4 separate regions of the Homo sapiens genome follow, and all the other regions are linked to region 4. Evidence: fine-mapped expression QTL. A gene starts in region 4. Each other region holds a variant in brackets. All regions are shown on one strand. Distances are between the middles of the regions.

Region 1 (2,688 bases), 21 kb before region 4:
GGTCCTGGTTTTGTGCCAGGTGCTTTACATGTTACCTCATTTAACCCATGAGATGGCTATACTCTCTTAGCCGCATGAGACAGCCATCTTTCTATAATCAGCTCTATTTCATAGCAGGAAGTGAGAAGGCAGAGATTAAGTAGCTTGCCCAAATTCAATTAACAGCAAAGCAATTTTTCTCTTTGTATCTTCCCCAAAATACAACATAATACACATACTGGGTGGGGATGACATGGGGGAGGGACCACTAAACTAGTGAACCAAATTCAATGTGGGGTGAAAAAAGTAGTCAAACCAATTCTTACTGAACAGTCAGGTAATAGACTAAAAAAGTCATCACTTTTCAACTAGTTGTTTTCATGTCATGAAGATATAACCATAATGAAATGTTTTGTAGGAGAGGGTCAGTTCCCATTTTAGGAAACTGTGCTTATGTCATTGGATTAAAAAAGAAAAACTAAAAATAGTCGGTGGGATACTTAAAAAAAAACTGTATTTATGGTGTACAACATGATATTTTGATATATGTACACAATGTGGAATCGCTAAATAAATATAGGCATTACCTCACATACTTATCTTTGTAAACTGACAAATTACAGCTGTATAAATTTATAGGTATAAAGTGATGTTATGATTTATGAATACATGTAGAATAATTTAATCATGCTAATTAACATATCCATCACCTCAAATACTTATTTTTGTGGTGAGAACATTGAAATTTTACTCAGCGATTTTGGAAGGTACCATACACGATAAACTATATTCACTATGCTGTGCAATAGAACTAGAAAAAAGAAAGTTTTCCTCTTCTCTGAGGCTCTGTATCCTTTAACCATCATCTCCCCTTTTTCCCCACCCTGCAGCTTCTGGGAACCACCATTCTACTCTCTGCAGTTCCATCCATGTTGTCTCAAATGACAGAATTTGCACATTTGCTTTTTTAAAGCTGAATAGTATTCCATTGTGTGTATATGTATCACATGTGCTTTATCCATTCATCTGCTGATAAACAGTTAGGTTGATTCTACAACTTGGTGATATGGGCTGGCTGTGTCCCCACCCAAATCTCATCTTGAATTGTAATCCCCATGTGTCATGGCAGTGACCCGGTGGTAGGTAACTGAATCATGGGGGCAGTTTCCCCCATGCTGTTCCCATGATAGTGAGTGAGTTCTCAGGAGATCTGATGGTTTTTTAAGCGTCTGGCATCTCCCTGCTGGCACTTTCTCTCTCCTGCCACCCTGTGAAGAGGCGCCTTCTGCCATGATTGTGAGTTTCCTGAAGCCTTCCCTAGCCATGTGGAACTGAGTCAATTAAACCTCTTTTCTTTATAAATTAATCCATCTTGGGTATTTCTTCAAAGCAGTGTAAGAACAGATTAATCTAGTACATTGGTACTGGGAGTGGGGTGCTACTCTAAGGATAGCTGAAAATGTGGAAGCGACTTTGGCACTGGTTAACAGGCAGAGGTTTAAACAGTTTGGAGGACTTAGAAGAAGACAGGGAAATGTGGGAAAGTTTGGAACTTCCTAGAGACTTGGAGGGCTCAGAAGACAAAAAGATGTGGGAAAGTTTGGAACT[TCC/T]TAGAGACTTGTTGAACGGCTTTGACCAAAATGCTGATAGTGATATGGACAATGAAGTCCAGGCTGAGGTGGTCTCAGATGCAGATTTGAGGAACCTGTTGAGAACTGGAGTAAAGGTCACTCTTGCTATGCTTTAGCAAAGAGATTGGTGGCATTTTGCCCCTGCCCTAGAGATCTGTGGAACTAGAACTCGAGAGACACGATTTAGGGTACCTGGCAGAAGAAATTTCTAAGCAGCAAAGCATTCAAGAGGTAGCAGAGCGTAAGAGTTTGGAAAATATGTAGCCTGATGATGTGACAGAAAAGAAAACCCATTCTCTGAGGAGAAATTCAAGCCGGCTGCAGGAATTTGCATAAGTAACAAGGAGCCAAATGTTAACCACCAAAAGACAATGGGGAAAATGTCTCCAGGGCATGTCAGATACCTTCACAGCAGCCCCTCCCATCACAGGCCTGGAGGCCTAGGAGGGAAAAATGGTTTCCTGGGCCAGGCCCAGGGGCCCCCTGCTCTATGCAGCCTGGGGACATAGTGCCCTGCGTCTCAGCTGCTTCAGCTCCAGCCATGGCTAAAAGGGGTCAAAGTACAGCTCAGGCCATTGCTTCAGAGGGTGCAAGCCCCAGGCCTTGGTGGTTTCCATGTAGTGTTGAGCCTGTGGGTGCACAGAAGTCAAGAATTGAGGTTTGGGAACCTCTGACTGGATTTCAGAGAATGTATGGAAATGCCTGGAAGTCCAGGCAGAAGTTTGCTGCAGGTGTGGAGGCCTCATGGAGAAACTCTGCTAGGGCAGTGCAGAAGGGAAATGTGGGGCTGGAGCCCTCACACAGGGTCCCCACTGGGGCACTGCCTAGTGGAGCTGTGAGAAGAGGGCCACTGTCCTCCAGCCCCCAGAATGGTAGACCCATCAACAGCTTGCACTGTGTCTGGAAAAGCCACAGACACTCAACGCCAGCTAGTGACAGCATCTGGGAAGGGGGCTGTACTCTGCAAAGCCACAGGGGTGGAGCTGCTCAAGGACATGGGAGCCCACCTCTTGCATCAGCACGATCTGGATATGAGACAGAGTCATAGGAAATCATTTTGGAACTTTAAGGTTTAATG
Region 2 (2,688 bases), 88 kb before region 4:
TCTTGATACGAATGAAAGGCCAAGAGTTTGTTGATGAGATTCAAGGTAGATATCCTCATCTTCTTGAACAGGTAAATACATTTTTAAAATTAACAACATTGAATTCTGCTTTATAATAACAAAAATATTATTAGGTTGGTATAAAAGTGATCATGATTTTTGCCATTGAAAGTCATGGCCAAAACCGTGATCACTTTTGTACCAACCTATATTAGAAGTTATGCTTATTTCTCTTTTATTAATTGTAGGTACATACTTTCATCCATGTTAATGACATCTTTGGTTTTTACTTTTGTAACCAACTTGATTTTTGAGGGCTTTTTAAAAAAGATTGTTTTTTTGTTTTTACTATTTTGAAAAATCATTTATGCTGCCACTGTACAAATTTGTGATGGGATTGGAGAAGGATCTTTAGTGTCTCTTTGCTGTTTTCCAGAAAAACAAACAAAAAATAACTTGTTAGGAGCTGAGACCCTTGGAGAGTAACCCAGTTAAAATCTTATTTTCCAAATGAAATGAGAAACCACTGATACATTTTTCTACTTTCCTGAAACTAGAGAAATACTTGATTTCTAATTTGGGATGACATGAAATTTAAGGAAATCTATGTGATTAGGGTAAAAGAAAGCAAAGCAAAGGTCATAAATCACTCAGTTCTCAAAAGAACATATACATTTACTTAAAGTAAGCTTATTTTAGTGTTGTTCTTTTCAGATTGTTGGGGATATCTGCTTTTACCTATTAACTTTTCTCTTGTTTCATAGCTGTTGTCAACTTCAGATACCACTGGAGAAGAAAATGCTGACCCACCAAGTATGTATGAGATAATTTTAAGTATAGAGTGTAAATTTTTATAAGAATTTTAGGAATAGGCTGGGTGCAGTGGCTCATGCCTGTAATCCCAACACTTTGAGAGGCCGAGGTTGACAGATCACCTGAGGTCAGGAGTTCGAGACCAGCCTGGCCAACATAGTAAAACTCCATCTACTAAAAATACAAAACTTAGCCGGGTGTGATGTGCCTGTAGTCTCAGCTACTCGGGAGGCTGAGGCAGGAGAATTGCTTGAACCCAGGAGGTGGAGGTTGCAGTGAACTGAGATTATGCCATTGCACTCCATCCTGGGCAACAGAGCGAAACTCCATCTCCAAAAAAAAAGGTAGGAATGAAAGTATGTATTTTTTAAAAGAGTTTCTGAAGCCATAGGGAAAAATACTGGGAAGTCAGCTAATAAATATTATATATATATATATATATATATATATATATATATACACACACACACAGAGAGAGAGAGAGAGAGAGAGAGAGAGAGTGTAATGACACTGTGGAGGACCCTAAAAGTGTACTAGTTTTTGTTCTAGTGCTATACTTATCACTTTTAGTGCTGACATTCCAACTGGAGAAATGAGACATAAGCAAAAGAAAAACAAAAAATAGTTCAAAGCAATGCCAAATAAGCGGTGCAAATAATAAACCCTCCAGAAAAGAAGAGTTTGCTGTGAGTTGGCATGATTTGGAAAACGTCAATTCACATATGATTCAAGAATTGGACTAGATGTTAGGTATTTAAGTCAGGTAT[G/T]TTGTATTTCAGTGCAAGGGCAGGAAATAGTATAGCTTTTGATTAGAGCTTAATGTTAGCCACATCTGTCAATTTATGTAATATACATATGTTATTGTGTCTAAAATGGCTAAGGTAGTAATCCCGTTTTATGTGCCAATCACATCTACAAAGGGCCATTCTGTTTGTGGCACAGCATTTCAAGAAAGATTGGCAGATTTGTTAACTGGACCAGAGAAAGGTGACCAAGATGTATGAGTCTTAGAAACCATGGCTCAGGAGGATTGGATGAAGGATTTGGTAGTATTTGACTGGAAAATAGGAAGGAGAGTACTGGAAAATAGGAAGGAGAGTACCTGGGTACATGACAACTATCTCCCGTGTAATAGACCTAGAAAAGATAGATAGCAGTGTGGGCTGTTCTTAAAATTTATAACCACTGCTATTAAGTAGGCTGCCCTGCAGTTCTACCATAGGTCCTAATAAAATCACTTTGTCAATCTTTAAAATGACTGTTTCTTGTTTTCTGTCTTGATAATTTTCTAACACTCTCTTCCCACCTTACTGTCAGTTTATAATCTTGCTTCCCTAAGAAAATAGAATCCAAAAGAGAGCTGCTTTATTGCCTCACCAGCAAAACCACTAGGCTACATAATTTATCCTTGTACTTTTCTGTTTGTTCATAAAAGATGAATTGTCCTTGCCCTTTTCTAAGGCCATTACTTCTACTTGTCCTCTGTATTCCATCCCCTACTGTCAACTTAAGAAGGTTACTTTGGCAGTGACATACCCTTTCTCTCGAGTCTTCAATTTTTCCACCTCTCCTGAATCACTCATGTTAGCATATAAACATAATGTACTTTTGCTAATCCTAGGAAAATTTCCATGAATGAATGTCCCCATTCAGCTATTACCTTATTACTCTGCTTCCCTTTACAACAAAATACCTAGGAAGATTTATCTGTGCTTAACTCTGTTTTACTTCCTCACCTTTCATTCTTTCACTTGTTCTGCTAGAAACTGTTCTTGTCATGGTAACCAGGGACTGCCGTGTTAGCAAATCCACTACTTGACCTGTTAATTAGCATTTGATAATCACTGGGTGCTTTGTCGTTGTTTTTTCTTTTTG
Region 3 (2,688 bases), 52 kb before region 4:
TTGTTTTGTTTTTTCTGTCAAAACTACTTATGTTCCTATTTGTTAGTAAAGTAGGATTAGAACAATTTCAAGCTGCACAATCAAAATGGTCAGTGTTCTGTGTAAAGTTCCTTAAGTATCCAATATACTGTAGTGGTTAAAGATCTGGGGGTTAATGGCATGGGGATCCACCATCTTGTCTTGCTGCAATCATAGACACAGACATAGCTTCTATTTGTAAGTCCCTATTAAATATTTCTTTCTAGCTGGTCACAGTGGCTCATGCTTATAATCCCAGAACTCTAGGAGGTCAGAAAGGAGGATCACTTGAGCCCAGGAGTTTGAGACCAGCCTGGGCAAAACAGTGAGACTACCATCTCTATAAAACATTTAAAAATTAGCCTGGTGTGGCATTGCATGCTTGTAGTCCCAGCTACTCAGCAGGCTGAGGTAAGAGGATCACTTAAGCTCAGGAGGCTGAGGTTGCAGTGACCCGTGATCGCACCACTGCACTCCAACCTGGGTGACAGAGCCACTGCAAAGCACTCTGTTTAGTCATGGTTTCTTTTATGTATTCTTTCATGTATTGACCTTAAAAAAGAATGTTTCTGAATATGCCTTTAATCTGACAAACCACCACCTTAATATTCTTTTAAAATCAGTTTGAGCCTACAGCCATGCCACTGTGAATGTGTCTGATCTCATGTGATCATGGAAGCTAAAGTGAGTTTGATATGATAAATATATGCAACGTAACTTTAAATATAACTTTTAAAAATATGTTTTTAAGGCCAGATATGGTGGCTCACGCCTGTAATCCCAGCACTTTGGGAGGCCAAGGTGGGAGGATCACCTAAGGTCAGGAGTTTGAGACCAGCCTGGCCAACATGGTGAAACCCCATCTCTACCAAAAATACAAAAATTAGCTGGGCGTGGTGGTAGGCACCTATAATCCCAGCTACTGGGGAGGCTGAGGCAGGAGAATAGCTTGAACCCAGGAGGCAGAGGTTGCAGTGAGCCGAGATCGTGCCATTGCACTCCAGCCTGGGCAACAAGAGGGAAACTCCATCTCAAAAAAAAAAAAAATCTGTTCTTAAATTATCATTTTTGTTTAAGTATTAGTAATATAACTGTTAGATCCAATTTTCATTTATGATGCGATGTTTATTTAGAGCTTATGTCAGTAACCTGAAAATCTGGGAAACTTCCATGTTCTTAAAATCTATCAAGAAGTTTGATTTACTTTTATGTGTACTGAATCATATGTAGTGTCAAAACTGGAAGATTCCAATGGCCTATTCCAACATTTCCCAAAATGTGTTCCACACAATACTAGTTCCAAGAGATAGACAGTGTTAGCTCCCATTGAAGAGGGGCAGGGGGAGGGATTTATTCATTCAACAAGTATTTTGGTTAAAAATTTGGGAAACAGTTCATACTGTATTCCATCCTGGAAAATCATAATGTATATCAATATTTTAAAGGCTTAGAGAAGTCTTATAGTAAACTGTCTTAGTTTACTTTAGTCAACTGAACATTTCCCACACTTTTTGATATAGGAACTGTGTGTGTGGGACACATGTATGTCAAATGTTAACCCACAGGGCAAATTTTGGAAAACAGTCATCTGTTCTATGGTATTTATATACATTAACACTAAAAAAAGTGAA[T/G]TAGCTCTTACATTTGTGTCACCCAATATGAGTATGTTGAAACCCTAATCCCAGTGTGATGATATTTTGAAGTGGGGCCTTGGGAAGGTAGTTAGGTCGTGAGGGTGGAACCCTCGTGAACAGAATTAATACCCTTACAATTAGAGGTCAGAGAACTAGCTCGCCTTCTTTCTGCCATGTGAAGAAGGCCCTTACTAGAACTCAACCATGGTGGCACCCTGATCTTGGACTTCCAAGCCTCCGGAAGTGTGAGAACTAAATGTCTGCTGTTTAAGGCACCCAGCTGTATGATACTTTGTTGTGTCAGCATGAACTAAGACAACACGTAAGACTCAAAAAAACAAAAACAAAAAGGACTATTGGAGCAACAAAAGTTTGGATATATCCTCAAACCATCAGACCTATAGAGCTACATGTAGAGTAAACATGGATTAGGTCTTGTTGATAATGCACATCTAAAAAGAGAGTTTTGCTACAGGTAAAATGATAAATTATATTATTTATACTAACCACTCATTTAAATTTTCAGGGATAATGAGGCTGTCAGAGGAATTTTTTTTGTCTTTGTCGTGGAAAACAAAAGCCATGGTTTTACCAAGGATGCTATTTAGTACCACAACAGACACAGACATACTAAGTCAAAAGCCTGCTGGGAACTGGTATTTCTTACGATTATTGGTATGAGTAAGTGAAAATTTCAGGGTAGGTTAACTTTGGTCTCCTGTAAAGTGTGTTTGACACTAGTAAAATACATTTTTTTAAGTATATACATCCATTTTCATTTGCAAATAATTATAATCACAAGCTTGTACATAAACAATTTACTTTGGGCCAAAAGGGTTAATGGGAATATAACTCATAAATCTATCAATTATTCATCCCTGAGATGAGCACTGGCTTGATATTCTATCATAATTAAAGATGTGCACCAACAATTTTTTTTAAAAAGTCCTGGCCATTCAAAACTTACATGGTTCGATACCGAATGCCTCTTCTTGAGTAATACATTTTGCATCCAATGTAAAGAATAGATAAAACT
Region 4 (2,688 bases):
GGAGACCTCACCTCATGAGATAATTGGTATAAAATTAGGACCAAGATACACGATGGACATGATTTTACCACTTTTTTTCTTAAATGATCTCAAAATTAGGTCTGCGAAGCCAGTTTGTCACACGCACAATTAAGCAAACAAAAAAACTTCAGCAAAACAAAGAAAAATTGTTAATTCACCCAGGTTATTCCAGAAAAAGCAAGTGTTGTGCCTGAACCTTCCAGATTTACAAACTGCCTTTTTCTTTTGCTGGATAAAACGAACCTAAGGCTAACATATACAGTGGATGGATAGAACTTAAAACCATGAAAACCTTGGGTTACTTAACTTATCCTAGTTTACTGACCATTACCTAGGGACCTGACTTCTCTAACAGTTGACAAAGGAAAACAGTATTTACACAACAAATCCCAACTTCCTGGTTTCATCCAAAAAGGGCTGTTTGAAGTCTCCAAAGGGCCAAGGGCCTAAAACGAAACAAATTCCGCCCTACACAGAAAAGCAAAGTCAACATCATCCTGTTACGACCTTACTAGCGACGACAAGGGCCACCGGCGACCGTGCAGCTGTGCCCTTAACGCTGCGCAGCTGCCGCGCGCCTCGGCCGGGTGTTTATGGCACACGAGGGGTGGAGAGCGCCCCGCCATGGGGGCGGCCGCCTCAACTACCGCGAGGGCGGGGCGCGCTCCCCAAAAGCTCCCAACTAGCTCCAAGAGCCCCGAAGTCTAACTTCGAGCGTCAGGGGGACCTAAAGATTGTAATTCATCTGGATAATACTGCATAATATTAGACGCTGAAATGCCTGGGGGACGCTTGAAAAGCTCCCCGACTAACTGGGAGACGTTTCCGCGGGCCTAGGTAGACATATTTTTCAACTCAGCTAATCTTGTTTACAAACGGAAGCCTTAGAAACTCTAACCTCGGCAAACATTAACTTCAGGGAAAGGCTGTAAAAACCAACTTGCGGTAACTCAACAGGTTATGCGCACCCGTCCCGGCCTGCGACCGCCGCATCCAAAAAGCGAGAGGGGAAGCACCAGGCAATTTCCTCAGCAGGCGGCCCCGGGGCCAGCGGGTGACTGGTCCAAACCTCAGTTTCCCCCACCCCGCCCGGTCACCTCTGGGTCCGCCCCGAGCGTTCGGCCAGACACACGCGGAACTTTCTGTACCAGAGCCCAACTTGGGAACCCAAGCCTCGGCAGCGCGCTGCCTCCCACGAACGGGGCTGACGACCCCCGCAGCCACTTACCCGCCATGGCTGCGCTTTCATGGGCGGCCCCCAGCAGCGCTAGCACCTGCAGCGTCCCCAGGAGCAGCGCGGCCCAAGCACCTCGCGCGCCGAGTCCCATTGTTCCGAGGGCAGGATGCGGCAGCCTCGTGGGCTCCCAGCCGAGGTGGCGGCGGCGAGAGCGGCTCCTCTGCGCAGCCGGCGCCGGCTCCGCTTCCCCTTCGGCCGCGCACGTTTCCCCTCCCGCCGCTTGCCCCCCGAATGACCAAATAGGGCGCAGGAGCGGGGCCTGGAGGGGGCGTCGCGTGCGCAGCCGGGGCGGCGGGGCCGGGCTGGGTGGCGCGGGGGCGGGCTCGGGGTTCTGGGCGTGGCGACTCGGCTCGCGGCCTCCCTCGCAGGCGCGCGCTTGGGAACCCCAGAAACCGCGAGCCGTTTCCTTTCTCTTCGGAAATGGCAGTTTTGTTGTCCTGGATGAAGGCGAGCGCCGCTGCCTCCCTGAATGCTGAGCACGCTGGCTTCGCGGTGCCCGGAAGGAAGCCTTTGAAGAGTAGTTTTGCGGGCAGGGAGGGGACAGGGGTGCGTGCGACTCAGAGTGAGAGGGAGGAGTTGCAGGGCAAAGGCGGGAGGAGGGGGAGATTCTGGAGAGGAACTTGAGGGGATGGGATTCACTCTAAGGAGTCCTGGGCGGTCGGAGCTTTCCCCTCGCGTGACCCAGCCTAAGGGGGAAGTGGAGAAAAACAGCTCGACAGATTTGTTGCTTAAATTCAAACGTAAAACACCTACGATCTTCTTATCCCAGTTGTACTTCATCTTCTCCACGGGTTCCCTGTATCTCTGATTAAGACACGAGATTAGTGGAGTGGGCGGGTGGGGGCGCGCGCAGGAGTTGGTAGCAACTCTCAGTGAAATACAGTAGAGCCATGGAAAGCGGGGGCTGCATTAATCCAACCAGCCTTTTCTCTCCTTGTGCCCTGCTGTCCCAGTTCAGATGAAATGGCCAGTTTTGAACAGTTTTTGGCTGAGTTCCTTTTAAACCCTTGGAGCCAATGCTAATCACTTGTCTTGACTTGAAGTGCTTGTAAAGTCTGCATTTTCATCGTGCTCAGAACTCTGAAGTGACATAGCTACCTGTGGCTAATGCATGAGAATAACAAAGGCTGAGTCCTGGCTTGGGTGGGAACCCTCAGCTGAAGTAGAAGACTGAAGGATCCAAGGAACCTAAAATCACAGTGAATCCCCACCTGCAAAGGTCTTAATGTTGCAGATCTTTGGCACCTGAGCCAGATTTCATCACATAAAGGCCACATTGCAGTTAACTTTTGAAAACTGTGTTATGAGAGGTAGAACTTTCTCATGTCAGGCAAATCCATCATTACAGAGGTCTGACTGGTCCTAGAGATTAACTGAGACAATCTGTCCTAAATTTACAGAGACTTCCATCTGTGGATTCAGTCAGCCAA

Evidence for each region. PIP is the estimated chance that this variant, and not a neighbour inherited with it, causes the effect.
Region 1: its variant is the best candidate, but not a certain one, in a credible set for the expression of TMEM123 in whole blood (INTERVAL, PIP 0.62).
Region 2: its variant is the best candidate, but not a certain one, in a credible set for the expression of TMEM123 in whole blood (TOPMed, PIP 0.87).
Region 3: its variant is the best candidate, but not a certain one, in a credible set for the expression of TMEM123 in whole blood (INTERVAL, PIP 0.57).

Annotation. Positions count from the first base shown.
Region 1 is chr11:102,430,690-102,433,377 of GRCh38, forward strand. All of the region lies in intron 2 of TMEM123 (transmembrane protein 123), which reads right to left. Among named protein-coding and RNA genes, the nearest start is that of TMEM123, 21 kb to the right of the region's middle. The variant TCC/T (reference allele first, on the strand shown) is at 1,588.
Region 2 is chr11:102,362,904-102,365,591 of GRCh38, forward strand. BIRC2 (baculoviral IAP repeat containing 2) reads left to right here. Exons shown (of 9, transcript NM_001166.5): 4 at 1-71; 5 at 765-813. Among named protein-coding and RNA genes, the nearest start is that of BIRC2, 17 kb to the left of the region's middle. The variant G/T (reference allele first, on the strand shown) is at 1,581.
Region 3 is chr11:102,398,920-102,401,607 of GRCh38, forward strand. It overlaps TMEM123 (transmembrane protein 123), which reads right to left. Exons shown (of 5, transcript NM_052932.3): 4 at 2,620-2,688. Among named protein-coding and RNA genes, the nearest start is that of TMEM123, 53 kb to the right of the region's middle. The variant T/G (reference allele first, on the strand shown) is at 1,650.
Region 4 is chr11:102,451,275-102,453,962 of GRCh38, forward strand. It overlaps TMEM123 (transmembrane protein 123), which reads right to left and starts at 1,491. Exons shown (of 5, transcript NM_052932.3): 1 at 1,250-1,491. The coding sequence starts at 1,349. It overlaps TMEM123-DT (TMEM123 divergent transcript), which reads left to right and starts at 1,645. Exons shown (of 2, transcript NR_135053.1): 1 at 1,645-1,775. RefSeq lists enhancers at 495-544, 725-1,014, 1,745-1,854 and a silencer at 1,335-1,624.